7 linked regions of the Homo sapiens genome follow. The protein of the gene in region 6 purifies or fractionates together with the protein of the main gene of each other region. This does not show direct contact. Each region holds a gene or a part of one and is shown on either strand. Other genes may lie near its edges.

Region 1 (3,500 bases), on a different chromosome or scaffold from region 6:
ATCTGGGAATGGAGTGGATGATCTGCAACAGATGATCCAGGCCGTGGTAGATAATGTGTGCTGGCAGATGTCCCTGGATCGAAAGACCACTGCACTCAAACAGCTGCAGGGCCACATGTGGAGGGCGGCATTCACAGCTGGGCGCATGAAAGCAGAGTATGTGCTTGAGTCAGCCTAAACATTTCACCAGTCCCAAATCCAAATATGTTTTTTCACCAGTCCTCTCTTTCCAGCGTAAGTCACAAGACTGGTAAAACAGATAAAAATCCACACTCTTTTTAGTCTAACAAGTGAGCTTTGTTTCATTTTTTCAAAACTTGGCTAAAATATTTCAGCTGACTAGATTACCCGGACCTGCCAGTCTGGTCTTGTGGGTTGATTGAAGGACTTGTCAAAGTCTCCGTTTAAAATAGCTTCCTAGAAAATGGTGACTTCCTTGAACTAAGTCATATTTGATTCTTAGCACATGAGTGACAGCTCCGTTGGGCTGCTTGCCTGGACTGTTAATTACCTGCTTTTTGCTCTATGAGACATAGGAAATTTTGTGCCCCACCGTGTTGAGGTTACTCAGAGGATGTCCGCACTACCACGTTCTTCTTTGCTCTTTTGAGCAACTTCCACAGATTCTTTGAGTCTTGGTTATGGAGTTCCTAATAGCACTCCTGCCTGAGGAGACTTTTGAGTATTATACTTACTGAGAAATTCTTGATTGATTCAGACAGGGTCCTACTCTGTTGGCTGGAGTGCAGTGGCATGATCATGGCTCACTGCAGCCTTGACCTCCCCTAGTTCAGGTGATCCTCCCACCTCAGCCTACCGAGTAGCTGGGACTAGGCATGTGCCACCATGCCCAGCTAGTTTTTGTATTTTTAGTACAGATGGGGTTCTACCATGTTGCCCAGGCTAGTCTCAAACTTCTGGGCTTGAGCGATCTGCCTGCCTTGGACTCCCAAAATGCTGGGGTTACAGGCGTAAGTCACAATACCTGGCCTATTTTTTTTTTTTTAGAGCTGGGGTCTTGCTCTGTGATCCACACTGGAGTGCAGTGGTGCCATCATAGCTCACTGTAGCCTTCAAGTGAACCTCCCGCCTCAGCCTCCTCATTAGCTGGGACCACAGGCACGCACCACCACACCTGGCTATTCAAAAAACATTTTTGTAGAGGTGTGGTCTTGCTATGTTGTCCATACCATATTGCTGATAAATTCTTTTCGTTTGTTTGTTTCTGTTTTTGCTTTGAGACCGAGTCTTGCTCTTTGCCCAGGCTGGAGTGCAGTGGCGCAATCTCAGCTCACTGCAACTTCTACCTCCTGGGTTCAAGCGATTCTCCTGCCTCAGCCTCTGGAGTAGCCGCCTGCCACTATGCTAATTTTTGTATTTTTAGTAGACATGGGGTTTCACCATATTGGCCAGGCTGGTCTTGAACTCCTGACCTCAAGTGGTCCACCCCATCTCAGCCTCCCAAACTGCTAGGATTACAGGTATGAGCCACCCCTCCCGGCCTATTTTTGTTTTTGGAGATAGTCTCACTCTGTTGTCCAGGATGGAGTGCATTCACACAATCTTAGCTCACTGCAACCTCCGCCCTCTGGGTTCAAGCAATTCTTGTACCTCAGCCTCCCAAACAGCGGGGACTACAGGTGCGTGCCACCACACCTGGCTAATTTTTTGTATTTTAGTAGAGACAGGGTTTTATCATGTTGTCCAGGCTGGTCTTAAGCTCCTGAGCTCAGGGCAGTCCACCTACCTTGGCCTCCCAAAGTGCTAGGATTACAGGCGTGAGCCACTGTGCCAGGCCTGCTGAGAAATTCTTTTTTTTTTTTTTTTTTTGAGACGGAGTCTTGCTCTGTCACCCAGGCTGGAGTGCAGTGGCGTGATCTCAGCTCGCTGCAAGCTCCGCCTCCTGGGTTCACGCCATTCTCCTGCCTCAGCCTCCCGAGTAGCTGGGACTACAGGCGTGTGCCACCACGCCCGGCTAATTTTTTGTATTTTTAGTAGAGACAGTGTTTCACCGTGTTAGCCAGGATGCTCTCGATCTCCTGACCTTGTGATCCGCCCCCCCTTGGCCTCCCAAAGTGCTGGGATTACAGGTGTGAGCCACTGCACCTGGGTGTGAAATTCTTAAGGATTTTAGGCCATTGCCTGCTGTAAACCCTAGGATCCAAGATTGTTTCCAGCTGCATATATTTCTTTTGTGTTTCTGTCAAATGAGATGTTGTTTCTTTATTTATGTACTTTACGAGGAGCTTCTACCTTTTAAAGGATGGACTGGAATTTCAGGATATGCCAGTGATCTGGGAATATCAGCCAGGTTCACTTTGTAAAGCACTCAAAAAAGTGGAGACAGGAGACTGTGCACCCGGTAGTTAGCCCATACTTCTCTTGGTCTTGGTTCCTTAATTATACAACTAACTGCTGAAGACAGGAAAAATCCTGTCTCCATGAGTGCAAACTAGTACTCAGAATAACATACTTACATGTGTACTGGTTTTGAATACGTTGATCTCTTTCCTTCAATTAGTGCAACATGTTAAGCATGTTAATACATATAAAGCGGAAGACTCCACTGACATTTTCCAGGTAATCTTTTAGAGATGACTGGTTCTACAACCCAAGTTCTTTGTGCTTCTCTTTTCACCTTTCTCCTGTGATGTTAATTTCCTCCATGACTATGGAAAACACTAGAATTGGTAAGAGAGACTGAGTGTCAGAAGTCAGAAAAAGACATCTTTTGCTGACTGGTTAATGTGAGTTGGTACAAGTCTCAACTGACTTGTTATGTAATTTTTTCCCCATATAATAAAACATTGTTTTCTTAGTTCTCAAAAAATGCAGGCCGGGTGCAGTGGCTCATGCCTGTAATCCCAGCACTTTGGGAGGCTGAAGTGGGGGGATCACTTGAGTCCAGGAGTTTGAGACCAGCCTGGGTGACATGGCAAAGCACCATCTCTACAAAAAATTAAAAAAAAAAAAAAAAAGCTGGGGGTGGTAGCACATGCTTGTAGTCCCAACTACCTGGGAGGCTGAGGTGGGAGGATCACTCGAGCCCAGGAGGTAGAGGTTGCAGTGAGCTGAGATCATGCCACTGCACTCCAGCCTAGGCAACAGAGCAAGACCCTGTCTCAAAAAAAAGTAATTCCATTTTCTAGCTAATCATAAGTTTATAGCTTTGAGCCTTCAAACTTTGTTTTGATTATTTTGGGTGCAGATCTTTCTAAAAGCATTTCCATGCTTTCTTAAAGCACAGTGGACATAATTTAACCTTTTCTTGTCATGAAGAACATCAAAGATTATATTATATCATTGCTGTTGTTTGCTTTTTTGAGTTCTTCGGGAATTTAAAAAACACTTTCCCATTTCATCCTTTTATCTGTAGTCCCTTTTTACTGTCACTAGTGGCTGTCTGTTCAAAACTATCCTCCTTTCCACATAGATTGTTGCTTCTAATCTGCTGTGAGCCTGGAACTTGGGCAGTATGTTTATTAGAACTGCAGGAGTTT
Region 2 (3,500 bases), on a different chromosome or scaffold from region 6:
TTTGGAGTACTGCTCATTTCAAGGTCACTTTGAACATTTTTCCACATTTGAAAGCTTCATCTTGTGGAATTATTAATAGATTCTTTATTTTTTTGATTATGGAAAAATTTACACAATCATATTTGTAATATCTAGGCATACAAGAAGTGTGTCTTGTTAATTATTACTGTTCTGAATTCCTTTTAATTGTAAGAGAAAGACTACTTACAAATAACTGTTAACTTTTTAGCTTTAAATTACAAAAGCGATTCTGTAGTATGAAGTCATTTTGGTTTGTTTCTAGCACAATTATACTTGCATATGTTTCATATAATTGAATGTCAGTTTCTATTACCTAGGACCATTTAATCAAAGTTGAACTGAAATAATGCATTTTATTGTTTGAAATTATATTAGTTTGGAATTTGTGACAGAACAATCTAGTTAAATTTTACTTTCGCTTAGCAGACCTCATTAATAGCAAAAATGAATTACAGGTCAACTGTTTAACTGTTTTCAGTCACCCATCATAAAACCATTACAGATTATGCTAGTGTTGATTAAATCTAGTTCCCTATGAATTTCCTAAGGTGGACATGTTTTTCTGTAGCCCAAAACTATGAAGTATTAGTTTGTATAAAGTAATATATAGTGTTAAAAACAAAGGAGAATATTCTGTACTTAAAAAAAAACTAAATAGGATTATCCTATTTGTTAATTAATATGAATTATTTTGGGCTTATTATCATAGAAGCTAAGAATATGAGCTCTAGGCTGGTTGCACTGGCTCATGCCTGTAATCCCAGCACTTTGGGATGCTGAGGTGGGAGGATCACTTGAGCCCAGGAGTTTGAGACCAGTCTGGGCCACATGGTGAAACCCCGTCTCTACAAAAAACACAAAAATTAGCTGGGTATTGTGGCTCACCTATGGTCTCAGCTACTGGGGAGGCTGAGGTGGGAGGATCAATTGAACCTGGGAGGTGGAGGCTGTAGTAAGCTGTGATAGTGCCACTGTACTCCAGCCTAGGTGACCAAGTGAGACCCTGTCTCAAAAAAAAAAAAAAAAAGTTCTAGAATCAGACTGCCTGAGTTTGAATCCTATTTTCCTTTGGTTTATGAGCTTGAATCCTATTTTCCTTTGGTTTATGAGCTTAGCCAAGTTATTTTCTCTTCCTTTGCTTCAGTTTTCTTATCTATAAAATGGGTCCAATGATAGTACCTGTATTGTTGAGGAGATGATGTGTAGTAGTAAATACAAAATTCTTAGCTGTTGTCATTATTATTATTACTGTAAAAATATTTTATTAAGATTCTTGGATACTTGTAAGCAGAGGAATATGTAAGGGAACATCTAATCTGTTTTAGAGATCATTGAAGATCCTATTCAAGAGCTGACCATAGAAGAACATTTGATTGAGAGAAAGAAGAAATTACAGGAGAAGAAGATGCATATTGCAGCCTTGGCATCTGCCATATTATCAGATCCAGAAAATAATGTAGGTAGTATTAATTTCTTTAGGCTCTTTGTATTAGGTATGGTGTAAATGCCTAATTGTTAAGATTCCCTTGTTACCTATAAGCATACACTAAAAGGAAAAGCATTAACTAAACATAGTAGCTGGGTTAGAGTAAGAGAGTAGACAGAATCTTAGCTTAATGCTATGTCTGAACTTAATTTCTTTTGTAATCCTAGAAAAGTTACTTAAACTCTCTGAATCTTATTCTCCTCATCTTCATATATGAAAATACTGGACATCTTATAACTCTAAAAATGTTTAAATTTATAAAATTGTATTAGGGAGGAGGAACCTGTTTGCAAATTTGCTTGACATACCCGTGGAGTTTTTAAAAAGCGCGCTACAGGGGAAGTGTATGGAATTAGTTCAGGAATATTTGTAAGTTGAAAATATTTTAAGTGAACTAGAGCCAAAGTTAAAGTAAAGTGTTATTGTGCCATGTGTATAGTCGTTGAGTTAGTGATGGTTATAACACATGAACTAGAGAAATCTGAGGTTTAATCTTGGCCCTGATAAGTACTATCTGTGAGACTTTGGGTAAGTTATTTATCCAAGACTCTTTCATCTCTAAAAAAGGACAGTGTCTTTTTCAAAACTTTGTGGTGAGGATTATATGATGAAATATACGTGAAGTCATATAAAATGATACTATTATTATTGTTATGCTGGTGTCCCCAGCATACTATTATAACAAGTATTTGTTTATGAAATGATAGAATAGCTTATTTACATTTATAGAAGCAAATTTCATGTGGGAATGCTTTGGAGTAGTACTTGTCCTTTTCTAATGAAGTGAGGGGAAGATCTAGAGCAGAATTAGGGAAGAGAGATTTGGAATATTTCTTATGTGTATTCTCTCAATCATTACAAAACCATAGGCATAAGAGATTGATCTAATTTTACAGCTGGAAAATTGAGCCTTAAAAAACCCAAGTGATTTGTTCCAGATTTTAACAGCCACTGGATTGGAACCCAGATCTTCTACTCAGGAACCTGTGCTCACAGACAATAGTAGTTCATCAAAGCAGTCGAAACCATCATAGAAATTATCTTTGAAGCTCAAGTTAATGTGGCTATATTACATGTAATTCCTGATTAATTCATGTGTATGACTGATATATTTGGTTAATGTATATAACATTTTAGTATATTTTGAAAAGCGTTTTTAGAAGAATAGGACACACGTACTTTAGGAAAATCCAGCAAAAAAGAATTTCCCAAAATAGCTAAATAATAAATGTAAACTAATTTTTTAAGGTCTGTATGTTTCTAACTATATGACAAAAATATGATTACTGATATAGTTTGGAGGTGTGTCCCCTCCAAATCTTATGTTGAAATGTGACCTCTGATGTTGGAAGTGGGCCTGGTGGGAGGTGTTTAGATTATAGGGGTGGATCCCTCATGAATGGCTTGGTGCCATCCTTGTGGTAACAAGTGACTTCTCACTCTGGTAGTTCATGTGAGAGCTGGTTGTTTAAAAGAGCTTAGAACCTCCCCTATCTTTCCTGTGACACCCTGGCTCCCCCTTTGCCTTCTGCCTTGATCGTAAGTTTCCTGAGGCCTCACCAGGAGTAGACGCAGGCACCGAGCTTCCTCTACAGCCTGCAGAACTATAAGCCAAAATAAACCTCTTTTCTTTATAAATTATCCAGCCTCAGGCATTTCTTTCTAGCAATACAAGAACGGACTAATACAATTACTTTATGACTTTAGTGACTTATCTCTTGGTAAAGTGAGCAGGGTCTGGAGTTTGGTGTGGCATGACTAGACTTGGAGTCATTGTGTGAATTCCGCTTGTTTTGCCGGATGTGGGGCTGTTGTCTTTTGTTCATAATTGTTTCGTCATGATTTCTCCAGCTTTATAAGCTATTTCTTTAACAGATTAAAAAATTGAAAGAATTACGTTCTATGTTGATGGAACAAGATCCTGATGTGGCTGTTACTGTTCGAAAGCTGGTAATTGTTTCTCTGATGGAGTTATTTAAAGATATTACTCCTT
Region 3 (3,500 bases), on a different chromosome or scaffold from region 6:
ATAGCACAAGGAAGACACACAAAACACCTGGGAAACTGAGAGAACAGCAGAATGACCTAAAGAAACCCAACAATGAATATCAAGTATAGATTTGACTCAAACAATTGTAATTTTTGAAATAAACTAGCAAAACCAGAAGCAGCTAGAAATATTCTTGGAGGAAAAGGACCTGGATATCAAGTAGGGTAAAGGTGGGGGTGTCTTTTTTCACTTTAAGCATCTTGTTTTCTAATCATGTGTGATAATTGGGTGAAAAATTCTTAGCTCAAAGTGTTTTAAAAACAGGTAAAGCAAAGAAACTAGCAGGACCACTCTCAGTTAAGATTAAAACTAAAGTCCAGTGTTAAGCTAAAGGAGAAATAGAAATTAATGGTTCTAATTCTGTTTGGGCTGCTAGGAACAACAGAAATTTTTCATGGTTCTAGAAGCTGGAAAGTCCTGGGTCAAGGCCCAGCAGATCCTGTTAGGTGAGGGCCCGCTTCCTGGCTCATAGATGGTGCCTTCTCACTGTGTGGTGGAAGGGGCAAGTGAGCCCTCTGGGTTCTCGTTTTTGAAATGGAGTCTCGCTCTGTTGCCCAGGCTGGAGTACAGCAGCACGATCTCGGCTCACTGCAATCTCTGCCCCCTGGGTTCAAGTGATTCTCCTGCCTCAGCCTCCCAAGTAGCTGGGACTATAGGCATGTGCCATCACACCTAGCTAATTTTTGTAGTTTTTTGTAGAAACAGGGTTCACCATGTTGGCCAGGCTGGTCTCGAACTCGTGACCTCAGGTGATCCGCCTGCCTTGGCCCCCCAAAGTGCTGGGATTACAGGTGTGAGCCAATGTGCCCAGCCTGGGTTCTCTTTTGTAAGGGCACTTACTCCAATCTTGAGGGTTCTGCCCTCGTGATCTAATAACTTCCCAAAGACCCCCACCTGCTAATATCACCTTGGGGGTTGGGATTTTAACATACAAATTTAGGGGAAACACATGGAGACCACAGCAATGGCCAATCCTTAGCGAATCTTAGGTCCTTCCCAGATCTAAAATGCCAAGCTACACTTGCATTTCCTTTTTTTAAGATTATGAAACTTCAAAATATATGAACTACAGCCCATATTGAAAAATAAAATAGATTGAGCCATATGCCTAAAAAAGACCTCAAGAAAAGTTTGAGGCTAAGCATGTTAGTGTTACAGGAAATGGTCCAATAGAGGGGGAAGAAAAAAAGCATGCTACTAGCCCCTTTTCTTGTACCGAGAATAAAACCATGCAGATCTCAAACCTCCAAGTCTATAGTATTGAAAAGACCAAGTTCACTTCTCAGAAGTCTCCAAGTTCAGTTGACTGTGGCACTCTGAGACAGCTTCTGTCACTCAGGCTGGAGTGATACAATCACAGCTTCCCATAGCCTCAAAATCCCAGGCTCAAGACATTCTTCCACCTCAGTCTCCTGAGTAGCTGGAACTACAGGCGTGTGCCACCACGCCTAATTTTATTTTTGTAGAAACAAGGTCTCACTGTTGCCCAGCCTCGTCTCAAACTCCTAGGCTCAAGCAATCCTCCTGCCTTGGCCCCCCAAGTACTGGACTTACAGGTGTGAACCACTGCACCCAGCTGACTCTTACTTGATTTCTGTCAGGGAATCTTAATGAACATTTCATGACTAAAGACTAAAAAGGATGCAGCTTTAAGTAAATTTAAGTCAAGTTAACAGTTAAAGACAAATCCTTTCCCTACATTAGATCGCCTGCTGATCTGTCCACTGTGAAAGGGCAGAAGACTCCACAGTAGCAATAGCAGCAGTGAGCATACAGGAGTCCCAGATGTTTACTTCTAGTATTTCCCACTAAAAGGAAGCTGGGCTCCTTGGAGAAACAGCTGACTCCAGGGCTTGAGGCTGGGACAGAAAGGTTACAGTATCTTATGCATGAAAGGAGATGCTCAAAATAATAAAGGCATGCAAATTATGATTTGGAGGGAAAAAATATGAGGCCATAGTGTTTAGGTAGATAATAAATGGCAGAGATAGAACACTCTCTTACAACAAATGCTGTAAATGGACAAAGCATTAGATTTGGAAAATCACTATTTTGTAACCATCATAGTTAAAGACTGGTTTGGGTTTTAGTCTGGAAAGAATCGCCAAGGGAGCTCCTGATAAAGGAACAGGGTATTTGCACATTGCTTCCCAGAGATTGCTAGTAGTAAGTACCACACATAGGGCAAAACCAGGACACCTTGACCAGGCGCTCAAAAGTAACATCAATGAAGAGCAGATGGAGAGTATACTTGAGAAGGGCGTTAAGCATGAATAAACAATTCAAATGCAAAATGAGTAACAATTTACAAGAAAAATTGCCCTGTACTCCAAAAAACATAGAGGTCATGGAACACATAAAGGCTAAGGAACTGTTCCACATTAAAGACAACTGAGAACAACTAAATTCAATGATCCTGTACTCTAGAGGGGGGGATCTAAAACAAGCTACCAAGGATACTGGGACAACAAAACGAATATGGATGATAAAGAGTATCAACATTCCCTGAGTTTGGTAATTTTACTCTAGTTATATGAAATATTCTTGTACTTGGAACATATGCCGAAGTACTAAGGAAGGGGTAAGGAAGCACAAAGTGTGCAACAAACTCAAATAGCTCACAGGTATAAGTGTACAGAGAAAATGAAAAAAATGTGGCAAAATAATAAAAATGAGGGTAAAGATTACACAACAGCTTTCATATTACTCTGGTAACTTTTCTAAATTATTCCAAAATAAAAACGTAAACAATGGCTGCCAAAATGCCTAACTTGGTGAACATAAGTGTAATTCAATATGGTAAATTAATTCAACATGGTAAATTAAGAGCATAGGCCTTAAGAGCCAGCCAGCCTGGTTTTAAATCCTCCACTACTTATGATCTGAGCTTGAGCAAGTTACTTAACCTCTGCATCTATTTCCACCAAAGGTTGAGAGGTTAAGACAAGAGCTTAGAAGAGTACCTGGTTATAATAAACATTCAAAATGTTATTTCAAATAGATTCTAATTTTTAAATAAGAGGACACATGAAAGCATTTTGAAATTTAAGAATGGCCCTTTCCCATGAAGCAAGGCATAAGGCCAGGTTGCTAACTGTTGAAAGCTGACAGTATGTTCTTGATTCCTGTTCTTGTTGAAGTTACACACTCAATTGCCAGGTATTTTTCTTCTGAATTTACTATTTAGCCACAGACTATGAAATAATTCTCTAAGGTGACCAGTAACATCAGTGAAATGGAAAGAAAAAGTTAACACTTCAAACTTTGTGTATTCACCTGAATAGTCAGGGAACTTTCACCTATTTTATTTAGGTTTTCTTTTTCTTTTTTTCTTTTTTTTTCAAATTCCAACCAGAAGCTAAATACAATTGGAAACTGGTAAGCACTAGTTTTACTCCAAAGGAGTAGGATCATTCAGATTTACTCCAATAAAAGTATGCAACCCTTAAGCAAAGCTTTTCTTCATTTAAAAGGAGAAA
Region 4 (3,500 bases), on a different chromosome or scaffold from region 6:
ACCGGAGGACACCCCTCCCAGGGCTCTGCCACTGTGGGGAAGCCCCGCCTCTGTCCACGGCTGATTGGAGCAGCAGTCGGTACAGGCTCCCCGCTGGACCAATCAGCATCCCCTCCCCAGAGCAAGGCACTGCCTGGAACCGCACCTGGCTGCCGCTCAGAGCAAAATGGACCCCATCCCGGCCCGTACCATGAGACAGGGAGACAAGTATATCCCTACAACTCGGGATCACAGCTGACAAGCAGCTCCAAGAACCCAGGAGGTCGGGGGTGCAGTGAGCTATGATCACACCACTGTACTCCAGCATGGGCGACAGAGTGAGACCCTGTCTCAAAAAAACAAACAAAAAAAATTCCCAAAACAGGCCGGGCCTGCCGGCTGGAGACTCCAGAATTTGGGGCCACTGGGGCTACACTTAGGTGGGTTCGGGTACAGGCGCAAGTGCAGGCGTCGCAAGCCCAGGTCGGAGCAAGGCTGGCGGCGGCTCCCCGTAGAGCCCTGGGTGCAGATGTTCCTTGAATTTTCTCAGAATCGAGCTCAAGGGCCCTGCCTGTGAGGCAGCTGAGCTGGTGGCTTTTGCCTTTCCTGAAGGTTGCGGTTTGCGTTTGTGCACCTGCCTGGCAGGCTCCCTCTGCCGGGAAAAGTCCCGTATGCGCCAACACAGGCTCTGTGTCAGGCACCTCCCACGCGCTAATTGCAAATGAGCTCACTGGTTACAGAAACACAGTCCCAGTGGCACAGACGCACCAACTACCTGCCTCACTGGTCTCCTTCGCTGTCTAGGTCCCTCGCTACAACAGTCCATTTTTTTTTTTTTTTTAGAGCTTCGCTCTTGTGACCCAGGCTAGAGTACAATGGCGCGATCTCCACTCACTGAAAACTCCGCCTCCTGGGTTCAAGTGATTCTCCTGCCTCAGCCTCCCAAAGTAGCTGGGATTACAGGCGCCGGCCACCACGCCCAGCTACTTTTTTTTGTATTTTTAGTTGAGACGGGGTTTCACCATGTTGGCCAGGCTAGTCTTGAACTCCTGACCTCAGGTGATCCACCCGCCTCAGCCTCCCAAAGTGCTGGGATTACAGGCGTGAGCCAATGCACCCGACCTGAACAGTCCATTTTTTTGAGACAGGGTCTCACTCTGTTGCCCAAGCTGGAGTGCAGTGGCATGATCATGGCTAACTGCAGCCTCAACCTCCCTGGCTCAAGTAATCCTCCTGCCTCAGCCTCCTGAGTAGTTGGGACCACACGCGTGAGCCACGATGCCCGGCTTGTATCTGTATTGTCACTGTTTTGTCTCTTACTACATGACAGAGCCTGGCATACAGTAGGTGCTCACTAAATGTGTGTCCAATGAGTGGAGTAAATCTAATATACATTAGGGATTGGGGATCTATGGCTTGTCGCTTGTTTTTATACGAGCAAAGAATGGTTTTTAAAACACTTTTAAGGGTTTAAGGCGGGGTGCGATGGCTCATGCCTGTAATCCCAGCACTTTGGGAGGCCGAGGCAGGTGGATCACTTGAGGCCAGGAGTTCAAGGCCAGCCTGGCCAACATGGCAAAACCCATCTCTACTAAAAATACAAAAATTACCCAGGCGTGGTGGCACACACCTGTAACGCTATCTACTTGGGAGGCTAAGGCAGGAGAATCACTTGAACCCGGGAGGCAGAGGTTGCAGTGAGCCAAGACGGCACCACAGTACCCCAGCCTGGGCGACAGAGTGAGACTCTGACTCAAAACAAACAAATAAATGGTTTAAAACAAAAAATCAAAGGGATAGTACTTCCTGATGGGTGGAATTTATATGAAATTCAAATCTCAGCATTTACAAATGAAGTTTGTTTTTTGTTTTTTCACAGACAGGATCTCACTCTGTTGCCCAGGCTGGAGTGCGGTGGCACGATCATGGCTCACTGCAACCTTGACTTCCCGGGCTCCAGCGATTCTCCCGCCTCAGCCTCCCAAGTGGCTGCGACTACAGGTGCATGCCACCATGCCTGGCTAATTTTTGTATTTTTTCTAGAGACAGGGTTTTGCCATGTTGCCCAGGATGGTCTTGAACTCCTGAGTTCAAACGATCCACCTTCCTGGGCCTCCCAAAGTGCTAAGATTACAGGCCTGAGCCACCGCCCCCTGCCCAGTTGAGGTTGTCTGGGCACACAGCCTTAGCCATTTGGTGACAGATGACCTGCGCTGGCTTTATTGAGTCGCTGTCTGGCTGCAGAGCTGCAGGTATTTACTATCTGGTGCTCTATGGGGCAGTTGACCACTCTGATATTTATCACCTGAGTGAGGAAGGGGACACGTGGGGTCATGAAGAAGTGAGGCAGGAGGGAGCAGGTGCCCGGGACACAGACAGGTGCTCACCTGCCTCATGGCGCACCATGGGCTCCTGACGGGTGTCTTGCAGCACGTCCACCAGCATGGGGATGGCGCGGGCATCCTGCATCTGGCCCAGGCAGTAGGCCAGCTCGTGCTTGAGCAGGGCGGAATCGTCATCGAAGGCCTGGCTGATCCATGCAATGGCGCCTGGGCCGCCGAGCCCACGCAGCGTGAACAGCGCCCGGAAGCGGGCCTGCAGGGGCTGCTTGGGGTCCACCAGCGTCTGCCCGATGGCATCCACCTCCTGCTCCGTCACCATCGTGCTGTCAATGGGTCCCGGCCTTCCACAACCCTGCTCAGGCTAAACCTGGGGACGCGGGGATGTAAGAACCTGTGGCAGAAAAATGAGAGCCCAGGTTAGAAGCCCCCTTCACCAGTGCGTTGTCTGTTCCTAGGACCTGGGTGGGGCAAATTCCTACCCACTGACCAACCTGAGCATCTACGCTGAAAGCTCAGCTCCAACCTCCCTACTAGCTGTGCAGCCTTCCGTAAGTTGCTTTCCCTCTCTGGGCCTCAGTCTCTGCACTGCCTCTCGCCTATAGGCCTATCAGAAATGACCTCCACTGTCTGCTCTCCACACAGCAGCCAGAGGGACAGCTGACCCCCAAAATGGCCCTAGCGATCCCCACCCAATATTCAAGGCTTTATATAGCGATCCCCACCCAATATTCAAGGCTTTATATAGTCCTCTCCCACTCTGAACAGGGCTGACCCATGTGAATGCCAAGAAGATGGAACAGAGCAAGACTTCCAAGGTTAGGGCATAAAAAGCACAACAGTCTCATCCTTGTTCTCTCTCTAGGGGAAGCCAGTGACCATGTTGTGAGGATGCTCAAGCAGTCTTTTGTAGGGGCCCACGTGGCAAAAAACTGAGCCCTCCCACCAACAGCCATGTGAGAGAAGTGGGCTGGCAGCAGCTCGTCCAGCCCCAAGCGAACCTTCAGATGATGCAGCCCCAGAGCGTCTCCACTGAGGCCTTACCAGAGGCCAGACCCAGAGCCAGCCAGCTAAGCCAGGCCCAGAGCAACTGTGTGCGACACTGTTTACTGTTGTTGAAGGTAACCAAGTATGTTTTTTTGTTTGTTTTTGAGACAGGATCTTGTTCTGTCGCCAGGCTGG
Region 5 (3,500 bases), on a different chromosome or scaffold from region 6:
GTGAGGAGAGAATGAAGGAGAATCAATATTTTAGAAGAATGGCTGAGAAGTTTCAAAACTGATTAAAGATATCTACCCACAGATTCAGGAATCTTAACGGAATCCCAATCAGGACAAACAATAGGAACCCATCATTAAGACACAGCAGATTGAAGCTAAACAAAATCAAAGACAAAGAGAAAACTTTTACATGCAGCCAGAAGAATAAGACAGGTTACTTATAAAAGAGCTGCAGTTAGACTGGCAACTGACTTTTTAATGATGACACTGGAAGATGGAATGATATATTCAATATACTGAAATGACCACCCAGCAAAAGCACCCTTCAACAATGAAGGCAAAAGCATGACATTTTCAGACAAACAATAACTGAGAGAGTTTACTACCAATAGACCATCATCAAAAGAAATCCCAAAGGATGCATGATCATTTAGGAAAATTACCCCAGATGGAATGTTAGAGGTGTAAGACAGAATGAATAGTGAAGAAAGTGGTAAATCTGTGAGCAGATTAACTAAACATTTGGCTATAAAACAATAATACTTCGAGGCACTTGAAAATATAAACAGACTTGAAATATACAAGAAATGTAGCATATAAGTTGGAGGTGGTGATGATGGTGGTTAGTGGAGTTAAATTATTGTTAATCTTGTCTTGTTTTAAAGGAGAACAGCATCAAGAAAGAAAGAAAAAGACAATTCTTGGCTGTGCAGGACTCTCTTGATCATTGTACAATAACTAGCATTCTTGTCTTCTTTCCACTAAATATAAGTAGCACCCATGTCCTCCCATCACCATGGTTACCAAAAACACCCTCATTAATTTTCAATATGTCCCTGGGGGCAGTGCTGCTTTTGTCAGGAACTGCTTTTGTAAATTCTACAATGCTCAGGCTCCATGATTACAATTCATAGAACAGCAAACACTTAGAAGTCTGGCAACTAAATGATTGTCTTTTTTTTACCTAGAGGTGTTACTTTTAAATTGGAAAGTTTATTCCTGATTATTTTCATTCATTCGTTCATTCAAGAAATATACATTGAATGCCTATTATTATCAGGCAAACTCTTAAGTCAATAGACCCAAATTCGAGTTTTTGTTTGTTTGTTTGTTTGTTTGTTTGAGAGAAGATCTTGCTCTGTCTCACAGGCTGGAGGGCAGTAGTGCAATCCTGACTTACTGCAACCTCCTCCTCCCAGGCTCAAGCGATCCTCCCACCTCAGCCTACCCAGTAGCTGGGGCTACAGGTGCTCACCATCACACCTGGCTAAATTTTTAGTTTATTTTGTAGAGACGAGGTTTTGCCATGTTGCTCAGGCTAGTCTTGAACTCCTGGGCTCAAGCAATCTACCTGCCTTGGCTTCCCAAAGTGCTGGGATTACTGGTGTGAGCTACCGCGCCCAGCCAAATTCAAATTTTACTTCTGCTACTTATTGGCCGAATGAGCCATGTGACCCAGGAGTTTCTCTTTTTGACCCAAGTTTCTCTTGGTGTAAAATGGATTTAATAATAATGCCTAACCTTATCTAACTTACAGAATCACTGTTAAAATTGACTAAGATGCAGGGCATTTAAAAGTGAACAGAAAATTGTATCACATCCACAAAACATAGATAAGCTAAGCACATACTACATGTTAGCTTTTATTATGTGTACTCCTATGGTGGCTAAAATATGCTACATTTATCAGGACCAACTATATGCCGTGTTACTCTAGCTATGGCATGCTACTCGTTGCAGATAAGAAAGCAGAAAGAACAGAAAGGTTAAGTTGCTTACTTAAGGCCAGCCAGCCAGTAAGTGGGAGGAAAGGGCATCTGAACATATATTTGTTTGAAACTCTTGTTTTAACTTATCCACCTTCTGAAGAGTGTGGTTGACTCTCTCTCTGTGTGTGTGTGCGTGCGTGTGTGTATGTAGCATTGATTCATTTATTCAACAGTTATTTACACCTATTATGCACCAGGCTCTGTTTTAAGTTCTGGGGATACAGCAGTGAACAGAACACCAAAATCCCTTCCTTTCTCTCTTCCTTCCCTTTCATTCTCCCTTCTGTTGCAGGCTCCTCTCTCCACCTCTTTTTCCTTTCTCTCCTTTTTCCATCCCTCTATTTCCCTCCACCACTCCCCCTCCTCTTCCCTTCACTCCCTTCTTTCTCTCCTCCCCCCACCCCTCCTCTGCTCCCAGTCGAGACAGGACCCACCAGGCCTGGTGGGAGGGCCATACATTTTGGTACCAGTGCTTGACTAGGCGGATGAGGCTCTTGAGCTTGGTGGGGCGCTGCTTCAGGAAGTCTCTCTGTAGTTCTGTGAAGCAGGTGGAGAACTCGCCCTCTTTCTGCAGGTCGGTGCACTCCTCGATGAGCTTGACATAGATTTGGGGGTTAGGTTTATAGCCGCCAGTCAACTGACCTGTTCGGGCAAAATCTACAACTTAGGTGTCAGCTCTTCTCTGAATTTCCTTCAGTCACTCTGAGGGGACAATCTCCCTGGCCATGGGGTTTGATTGAAAAGTGCAGCAGACCCAGGGCTGGGAAGTCTTGAGGTCCATTCCTGATCCTCCCTCCTGCCCTCTCCACTGCCATCACCCCATCCAAGCCACCACCGTCACTCGCCGGAACTATGGCAGCAACCTCTTTACAGGTTCCCCCACAGCCTGTTCTCAACCTGGCACCTAGAGAATGCTGCTGATCATGCTGCTTCCTGCATCCCATAACATCTGGAATTTTAAAACCCAAAGATCTTATGGTGGCCAATGATGTCTGGTGTGATCTGGTCTCTGGAACCTCTCCCACCTCACCTCCTGTCTTGCTTCCTTTGCCCACTTTCTACTTCTCTGACTTTTTCTCTCTTCCTCAAATGTGCCATGGTCATTGCTGCTTCAGGGCCTCTGCACTTGCCATTCCTCTTCCCAGAACCTCCAGATCTCCCCAAGGCTCACTCCTTCTCGCCACTCAGGCTCAGGGACCCTCCCTCACGACCCTGTCTAAAAAAGCTCCCTAACCCCCATGGCTATCTATTGTTTCACCCTACTTAGTTTTCTTTTCTTTTCTTTTTTAATCACTCCTTATATTCTTTTCTTTTTTCTTTTTTTCGAGATGGAGTCTCACTCTGTTGCCCAGGCTGGAGTGCAATGGCATGATCTTGGCTCATTGCAACCTCCATCTCCTGGGTTCAAGCAATTCTCCTGCCTCAGCCTCCCGAGTAGCTGTGATTACAGGCACACACCACCACGCCCAGCTAATTTTTGTATTTTTAGTAGATGTGAGATTTCACCATGTTGGCCAGGCTGGTCTTGAATTCCTGACTTCAAGTGATCCCCCCACTTTGGCCTCCCAAAGTGCTGAGATTACAGGCGTGAGCCACTGTGACCAGCCTTCTCCCTCTTGTCTTTTACAACCATTGTACTTCAGCCCCCAACACAGGAGATGGCACAAAGGAGAGAATCCAAAACTTTCTCATACCCTGGTGTCTTTGGAGAGTCAGCATTTTTTTTTTCAT
Region 6 (3,500 bases):
AGCTCTTTTCCATTCCTTTCTTTTCTACTCCATAAAGCACATTGGAAGGTGAGTGAGTGATTCCAATAACCTGGAGTCCAGTCCAACACAGTCAATTATTCGTAGCATTTGACTCAGATTATCCTCATACTTCACAGCTGATCACAACACATTTTGGTGTCACCACCATTTCTGATGAGGATCCCACATTCATTTAGTTCCTTACCTTTAGTCAAGGTCAAGATTCTTATCTGCACTCATTTTGATATATTTATTTGATTTATTTACATAACCAGTAGAAAGGAGATTTTAAAAATATTTATTACATTTGTTTCTAGAAATCATAGAAAATAAAAATTGATACAATTTTGATATACAACTTTAGAAAGGCATATTTATCCTTTCACACCAGAGAAGTTTATGCAATGCCAGACATGGAAATACCAAAGCCACTGGTGACAAAGGGTAAACGCTACTGATAGAAGAAAGCCTTGTCCATTTTTATAGTTTTCTTCTCTACCATTATTTATTTTTGAGCAAATACCAGTCCAGTGGAAAGAGTTCTGAACATAAAAGGCACCTAGAGTAAAAATTAGACCTTAACTAATAAAACAGCTGTACACGTTTACATCAAGAAAAAAAAACCCGGCCAGCACAGCTCATGCCTGTAATCCCAGGAGTTAGCCTCGGCAACATGGCCAAACCCCCGTCTCTACAAAAAAATACAAAAATCAGCTAGGCGTGGTGGTGCGCGCCTGTACTCCCAGCTACTTAGGAGGCTGAGGTGGGAGAGTCACTGGAGCCTGGGAGGTCGAGGCTGCAGTGCAAGATTGAGAATTGCAGGATTGCACTGCAATCCAGCCTGTGCTACAGAGTGAGATCCTGTCTCGAAAAAAAAAATAAAAAAATAAAATGGGCCTATCAATGCAACGTTCCTGCAAGGCATTGATAATATAAATGCAAAAGCCACCGCAACCAAAAAGTCTATAATGCTTGCCTGAATCTAGTACATAAGCAGGATAATGACAATCACTTTTTGTTTATAAATTTGTAGATGTCTTATTATTTCAGTCAGCATGAGTACTGTATTTATATTTGTGGGTGGCAGCTCTCAAATTATTTATCCATAGTCCAGATTTGTTTTGTTGCATTTGCTCTTAAAATGCATTGTTGTATACTCCATCACAGATGTGTCAAATACTCCTGCTGTCTTTTGAGAATGTAGCAAAACCTAAACCTGCTACTTTAAACCAAAGTCCTTTTTTTATTATTGTAAAGCTGACATTTTACTCTGATTTAAGCACCTGAAGTGTATTTTGACTAATTTATATTCTGAGCTAAAATTAAGAACCTCAGGATTTGTGTACATGTACAAATATTGCAAATTATTTCTTTAAGCTAATAAAAACTTAAAAATACAAATAATTTTTATTACAAAGATTTGAAATCCATATATGAGTCTGAACTAAGACAAAAATGCACAGGGAGCCAGGAAGCAAACACTTGTGTACGTTTTCTAATCTGTGGACAAGGTACTGCTCAGCGAAGCCAGGTTGTATTCAGCTGCGTCTGGTTCTTGATACTGGTATCCATTTTTAGCACTTCTCGAATGGCCATGGTGGCGTAAGTAGAAGGGGGTAGAGAAAAATCCATTTTCAGAGCCCTGTATTTGCCTTCTGCAAGGCAAGAAAGAAAACAGTCAGAAAATGAAGGCAGCTGCAGACAGACCAGCGAGAGTCACATAATCTCTAAGCAAATACAAAGAACTGTGCTGCTTTCCTTAGACTCCACTTCCTAGGGGGCCTTGGAGAATGAGACCATGGAAGTAAGAGATCTGTGAGTGTGAACCTGCTGAATGGTTACAGAAATTCTGCCCAGGAACTTTCACAAAAAGGCAGATGACAGAAGAACACAAAAGAGAAACGCATGTAAAGTTAAAGAAATAATAATAAATTACGGCCTGGGAAAAAACAGAACAAGAATTTGATGATGAGAATGCCAATTTAATTAATTAATTAATTTTTTTTTGAGACAGAGTCTTGTTATGTTGCCCAGACTGGAGTGCAGTGGTGTAATCTCAGCTCACTGCAGCCTCCACCTCCCGGGTTGAAGCGATTCTCCTGCCTCAGCCTCCTGAGTAGCTGGGATTACAGGTGCCCACCACCACGCCCGCCTAATTTTTTTTTTTGTATTTTCAGTAGAGACGGGGTTTTGTCATGTTGGCCAGGCTGGTCTGGAACTCCTGACCTCAAGTGATCCACTTGTCTCGGTCTCCCAAACTGCTGGGATTACAGGTGTGAGCCACCACGCCCAGCCACCAATTTTTTTTTTTTTTTTTTTGAGATGGAGTCTCGTTTTGTCACCCAGGCTGGAGTGCAGTGGCGTGATCTTGGCTCACTACAAGCTCCGCCTTCTGTGTTCACACCATTCTCCTGCCTCAGCCTCTCCAAGTAGCTGGGACTACAGGAACCCGCCACCACACCCGGCTAATTTTTTGTATTTTTAGTAGAGACGGGGTTTCACCGTGGTCTCGATCTCCTGACCTCGTGATCCGCCCGCCTCGGCCTCCCAAAGTGCTGGGATTACAAGCGTGAGCCACCGCACCTGCCCAACCAATTTAATTTTTTAGACTCTTCCTGAATTTTCACTCACCTTTGGTAAGTCTCTGTGGGGGATGGGGAGAAATACTCCATCACCTAATATCACAACCATCTATAACATGCACTTATTTTCAGGAGGATTTACTGGTTTTAATCACTAACTTTCAGCCATAATTGTGAAAGTAAGGTCATAAAACACAACAATGAAATCATGGGTGGTGGTAGTGCTTGTAAGAGCAGTTTTCAAAAAAAAATTATGTTTTTGTTTAACAAAACATTTCAAAGTCAACACAGAGCTGATGACTGAGTAAACTTACCAGAAGCAAAAACTGGTGGTGTCTTCCCTTCTAGGTTGTCCACATCTGTGTTGAAAAGTGGAATTTTGGGATCATCATATGCAACGACTTCCCTTCAAAACATATGAATAAAGATAAGTGTGAATGTGAACTTTCATAAAAGGTACTAAGCCACTCATCATCATTTATTTAGCAAGAAAAACAAGTAAGTTTACTGTAAATAATTATAGTTAGGAATCTTGAATAATATAGCAGGGCCAGATTTTATACCTAAGTTTTGCTTATATATATAATTTTTTTTTTTTTTTGAGATGGAGTCTCAACTCTGTCACCTAGGCTGGAGTGCAGTGGTGTGATCTTGGCTCACTGCAACCTCTGCCTCCTGGGTTCAATCAATTCTCCTGCCTCAGTCTCACAAGTAGCTGGGACTATAGGTGTCTGCCACCATGCCTGGCTAATTTTTGTATTTTTAGTAGAGATGGGGTTTCACTATGTTGGCCAGGGAGGTCTCAAACTCCTGACCTCAGGTGATCCACCCGCCACAGTCTCCCCAACTGCTGGGATTATAACGTGAGCCACTGTGCCTGAATATAATAGGCTCAATCCAATTATATTCTATTAGTTA
Region 7 (3,500 bases), on a different chromosome or scaffold from region 6:
ATTTTTTATTTTTGAGACAGAGTCTCGCTCTGTCGCCCAGCCTGGAGTGCAGTGGCACGATCTCGGCTCACTGCAAGCTCTGCCTCCCAGATTCATGACATTCTCCTGCTTCAGCCTCCCGAGTAGCTAGGACTACAGGTGCCTGCCACCACGCCCGGCTAATTTTTTGTATTTTTAGTAGAGATGGGGTTTCACCATGTTAGCCAGGATAGTCTCGATCTCCTGACCTCGTGATCCGCCTGCCTCGGTCTCCCAAAGTGCTGGGATTACAGGCGTGAGCCACCACGCCTGACCTACATTTTTAGTAGAGATAGAGTTTCACCATGTTGGCCAGGCTGGTCTCAAACTCCTGACCTCAGGTGATCTGCCCACCTTGAGCCCCCCAAAGTGCTGGGATTACAGGCGTGAGCCACTATGTCCGGCCCTACTACCACCAAATTTGACACATCATTTGCAAGCACTGACATAGCAATTAAGCACATTTGCATATTCATCTGTACTCATTTTATGTTAAGCCCACCAGGTCTGAAGTCATTTACATCAGTTTCATGTTAATTATCAGAGGGGGTCTAAAAGACTACCTTATTCATGCCTACAAAGCTGGTGTCATATTTGCATAGATCAGCATGCCCATTTATATGCCACCTTCAAAGTACACCCAAGCTTCCCCAGTAGGGTCCAAGACACAGCTGATCAAGACACAGCTGATCAAAGAGAGCTCCTCCCTCTGCCCATGTGCTCACCTGCGCTGCCCTGTCTGGGCCTCAGTCTGGTTGATCCAGTTCTTATAGAGGTGGACAGGGTCTGTGTGGACGCTGAGCACTTTGTCTTCTAGCACATCCTGGATAACCTTGCCCAGAATCTCCTGCAGGGCACTCTGTCCCCGCCCATTACGGTAGAATCTCACCACCAGCCTCACCACTGTTGGGTTGCCTGTCACCACGTCCTGGGGCTGCTCCACCTTTGACCTGTGGTTTAAGAGGTCATTGAAACCAGTCTTCTGCCTCTGTGTAGGACATACCGTTGCTTTTCCTTTTTGAGATTTTGGCTCTCAAAGCCTGCCCTGGTGTCCCCGCTCTTAAGGAATGTCTTGATATCTCTCTCATCCTTTGTGTTAGCATGTCAGCCCATATCCTCCCACTGTGCTGTCCCAGATGTTTTACGGTTTCTCCACAGGAGGTAGAGAAAAGAGGTCTTCTGATTCCATTTCTACCCTTAGGCCTCAACAAGTTGTCACCTTGTGAAGGAGCCAACAGGGGGATCTCTTAACCCATTCTCTCCCCATTCCTTTGTGTCTGGAGAGCCTACTTGATTTCCTCCTGGAGTGCTGTCTTGAACAGCTGGAGCAGGAGATAGGCCTCTCGGCGGCTGGAGGCATAGTTGTACAGGCTGAAAATCACTGCCTCCATGAACTTGGTGGTTTTGTTCTGTGGCATCTGAAAGATCAGCTTGGCCAGGTAGATGGGCTGAGTCTGCAAGCAAGAGGGGAGACAGGAATGGCTGACCATGCACTTCAAGGACCAGTGATAGGATAAGGAAAGGCTTTCCCCTGATGGAAATCTGGAATGGAGAAAGCACTACCACACTTTCTCCAGGTGCTAGTAACATTCCAGACAAACAGGGGAAGAGGTAGTCTCCTTTCCTGGGGATAAGGAATTAAGATTATGGGAAAGGACACCTTGCATGGTGCCAAACGCACAGACAAGAAGGCCTTGAAGTCTCAGACCCTCAGGAGACGGGAGAGACTTCTCCTTGGAAAGTCCTCTGCTAACCTGGAGCAGGTAGAAGAGGTGTTGGTATGCTTCTAGTTTCTGCCGTTTCTCTTTGCTCAGCGACTTTAAACCCTTCTGCTTGTCCAGAACCATCATATCTGACAGCTGTTCCTTATTCCTCTTGGTCAGCTTCTTGCAGTGGGAGACCACTTCCTGCAGGGGTGGAGGAGCGGGTGATACAACTAGCCTAGGCCATCCCAGGGCACAGAACATACGGTCTAGAATCAGTGCCTTGAAGAGCCAGGGCTTTCTGCTGTTCAAGGAACAGGCATAAGCTGGGGGACAGAAGCAGTTCTAGGGTGAGGAAGGGCCCCTCCAAGTGCCCTGAGACTCCATCTGTTTCCTCTCCTGTCATGGGAGTGAGTCCCCAAAGAGAACTGGTTTGCCAGGCTGAGGAATTGTGTCTATTTGGCTTTTGCTATCTCTTCTTATTAGACTGCTACACACATTTGAGGTGGAGCTATCACTATATCACTATTACCCTGTCACTGCATATTTATATGGTAATTTATGATTTAAACAGCTTTCATATCTGTCTCTATATTTGGCCTGGAGAGGTGGACATTCTCATTATTCTCAGTTTGCTAATGAGAAAACAGACTTAGAAGTGAAATGAGCACCCACAGCCCCATCCCTGGGAATCAGCAGAGCCAGGCATTCTGATTCTAGGTTTCATGCTCTTTCTACTCTGTCATGGGTCCCCCAAAATGATTTATTAGAATGGCAGAGGGCCACTGGAACAAGGACCTGAGTCAGGTGACAAAATCCACAACATTTTGAAAAAAATTGATTAGCAAGCAGAGAATGGTCAGCATCACATCTCCAGAGGCAGGCAGATCTCGGGGAGGGGAGGACTGGTGGGCCCCATACCTGCAGAGTGATCCGGTTCTTCACCAGCAGGCCAATCTTGATGTCCATGATGTTGAGGTCCTGCTCCAGCTGCTGATTGGATCGGATCTTCCTAACTACCTCTTCCTGGAGCTTCAGCAGCTCTGCCTCAGCCAAGAAGTCTTGCTGGCTTTGATTCAAGAGATGGGCAAATCTGCGTACCACACTGAGAGGAGGGTGGGGTGCATGCACTGGGAGGAAGGGAGGAGGCATCAGGATTAGCCATGCCTCATCAGAGGCCTCCTCACCAGCCCCTGCCCGAGTCAGCCCACCCCAGTCCCCGTTCTGCTTGGGATCAGCAGGTCCCCAACCCCAGTCCTCTTCTAACTGGTTCTGCTTGCACTTGGAGGGCAGTGGGTAGCCTTCTAGCCAGGCCTGTCCCTGAGCTTCCTGTCTTATAACTGGAGATGACATAATAGCTGCTCTTCCCATGCCTCTGATTCACCCCAGCCTGGGTCTATCCCAGGGACCTCTGACACCAAAGCCAGAGCCACAGCTCCCTCTGATTATCCTCCCAGACCTCCCTAGTCTACCCCAATCTACCACTCACTTCTGCTGGGCCAACCTGCTCCTCCTCCTCCTCCTACCTGCCAGCCACCACTCAGCCCTGCTTGCTCCCACAGTGCTCCTCTGTCAGGAATGTCTGTACACACCGGGAAGGACAGGTAGACGGGATGGACAGTGGGCTTTATAATTTAGGGGAGGTCAGAGCTAGCTGGTGATTCTCCTTGAATCACCTTTGGAATTGGCATTTGAGCAAAAAAGAAAGAAGCCTCTGAGCTAATTTATTGGAAATAACAACAAAACAACTAATACATAGAATGTTTACTATGAGACAGA

Evidence for each region.
Region 1: the proteins of PUS7 (region 6) and ENOPH1 fractionate together in Homo sapiens (co-fractionation; one large-scale study listed by BioGRID). This does not show direct contact.
Region 2: the proteins of PUS7 (region 6) and NOC3L fractionate together in Homo sapiens (co-fractionation; one large-scale study listed by BioGRID). This does not show direct contact.
Region 3: the proteins of PUS7 (region 6) and ACOT13 fractionate together in Homo sapiens (co-fractionation; one large-scale study listed by BioGRID). This does not show direct contact.
Region 4: the proteins of PUS7 (region 6) and DOHH fractionate together in Homo sapiens (co-fractionation; one large-scale study listed by BioGRID). This does not show direct contact.
Region 5: the proteins of PUS7 (region 6) and OAS1 purify together in Homo sapiens (co-immunoprecipitation; one large-scale study listed by IntAct). This does not show direct contact.
Region 7: the proteins of PUS7 (region 6) and IQGAP3 purify together in Homo sapiens (affinity purification with mass spectrometry; one large-scale study listed by BioGRID and IntAct). This does not show direct contact.

Annotation. Positions count from the first base shown.
Region 1 is NC_000004.12:82,451,090-82,454,589, forward strand, and holds part of ENOPH1 (enolase-phosphatase E1), read left to right. Parts: coding exon 1-156; intron 157-3,500. UniProt on the Homo sapiens protein: Bifunctional enzyme that catalyzes the enolization of 2,3-diketo-5-methylthiopentyl-1-phosphate (DK-MTP-1-P) into the intermediate 2-hydroxy-3-keto-5-methylthiopentenyl-1-phosphate (HK-MTPenyl-1-P), which is then dephosphorylated to form the acireductone 1,2-dihydroxy-3-keto-5-methylthiopentene (DHK-MTPene).
Region 2 is NC_000010.11:94,352,940-94,356,439, reverse strand, and holds part of NOC3L (nucleolar complex protein 3 homolog), read left to right. Parts: intron 1-1,346; coding exon 1,347-1,477; intron 1,478-3,382; coding exon 3,383-3,500. UniProt on the Homo sapiens protein: May be required for adipogenesis.
Region 3 is NC_000006.12:24,701,577-24,705,076, forward strand, and holds the end of ACOT13 (acyl-coenzyme A thioesterase 13), read left to right. Parts: coding exon 1-39; 3' UTR 40-3,470; downstream 3,471-3,500. UniProt on the Homo sapiens protein: Catalyzes the hydrolysis of acyl-CoAs into free fatty acids and coenzyme A (CoASH), regulating their respective intracellular levels. Has acyl-CoA thioesterase activity towards medium (C12) and long-chain (C18) fatty acyl-CoA substrates.
Region 4 is NC_000019.10:3,494,175-3,497,674, forward strand, and holds part of DOHH (deoxyhypusine hydroxylase), read right to left. Parts: intron 3,440-3,500; exon of another isoform or gene 3,184-3,439; intron 2,870-3,183; exon of another isoform or gene 2,713-2,869; 5' UTR 2,641-2,712; coding exon 2,367-2,640; intron 2,232-2,366; exon of another isoform or gene 2,057-2,231; intron 1,981-2,056; exon of another isoform or gene 1,941-1,980; intron 1-1,940. UniProt on the Homo sapiens protein: Catalyzes the hydroxylation of the N(6)-(4-aminobutyl)-L-lysine intermediate produced by deoxyhypusine synthase/DHPS on a critical lysine of the eukaryotic translation initiation factor 5A/eIF-5A.
Region 5 is NC_000012.12:112,909,962-112,913,461, reverse strand, and holds part of OAS1 (2'-5'-oligoadenylate synthase 1), read right to left. Parts: intron 2,412-3,500; coding exon 2,227-2,411; coding exon of another isoform or gene 2,204-2,226; intron 1-2,203.
Region 6 is NC_000007.14:105,456,272-105,459,771, forward strand, and holds the end of PUS7 (pseudouridylate synthase 7 homolog), read right to left. Parts: intron 2,989-3,500; coding exon 2,897-2,988; intron 1,656-2,896; coding exon 1,519-1,655; 3' UTR 232-1,518; downstream 1-231. UniProt on the Homo sapiens protein: Pseudouridylate synthase that catalyzes pseudouridylation of RNAs.
Region 7 is NC_000001.11:156,538,066-156,541,565, forward strand, and holds part of IQGAP3 (ras GTPase-activating-like protein IQGAP3), read right to left. Parts: intron 2,852-3,500; coding exon 2,643-2,851; intron 1,926-2,642; coding exon 1,773-1,925; intron 1,473-1,772; coding exon 1,309-1,472; intron 969-1,308; coding exon 744-968; intron 1-743.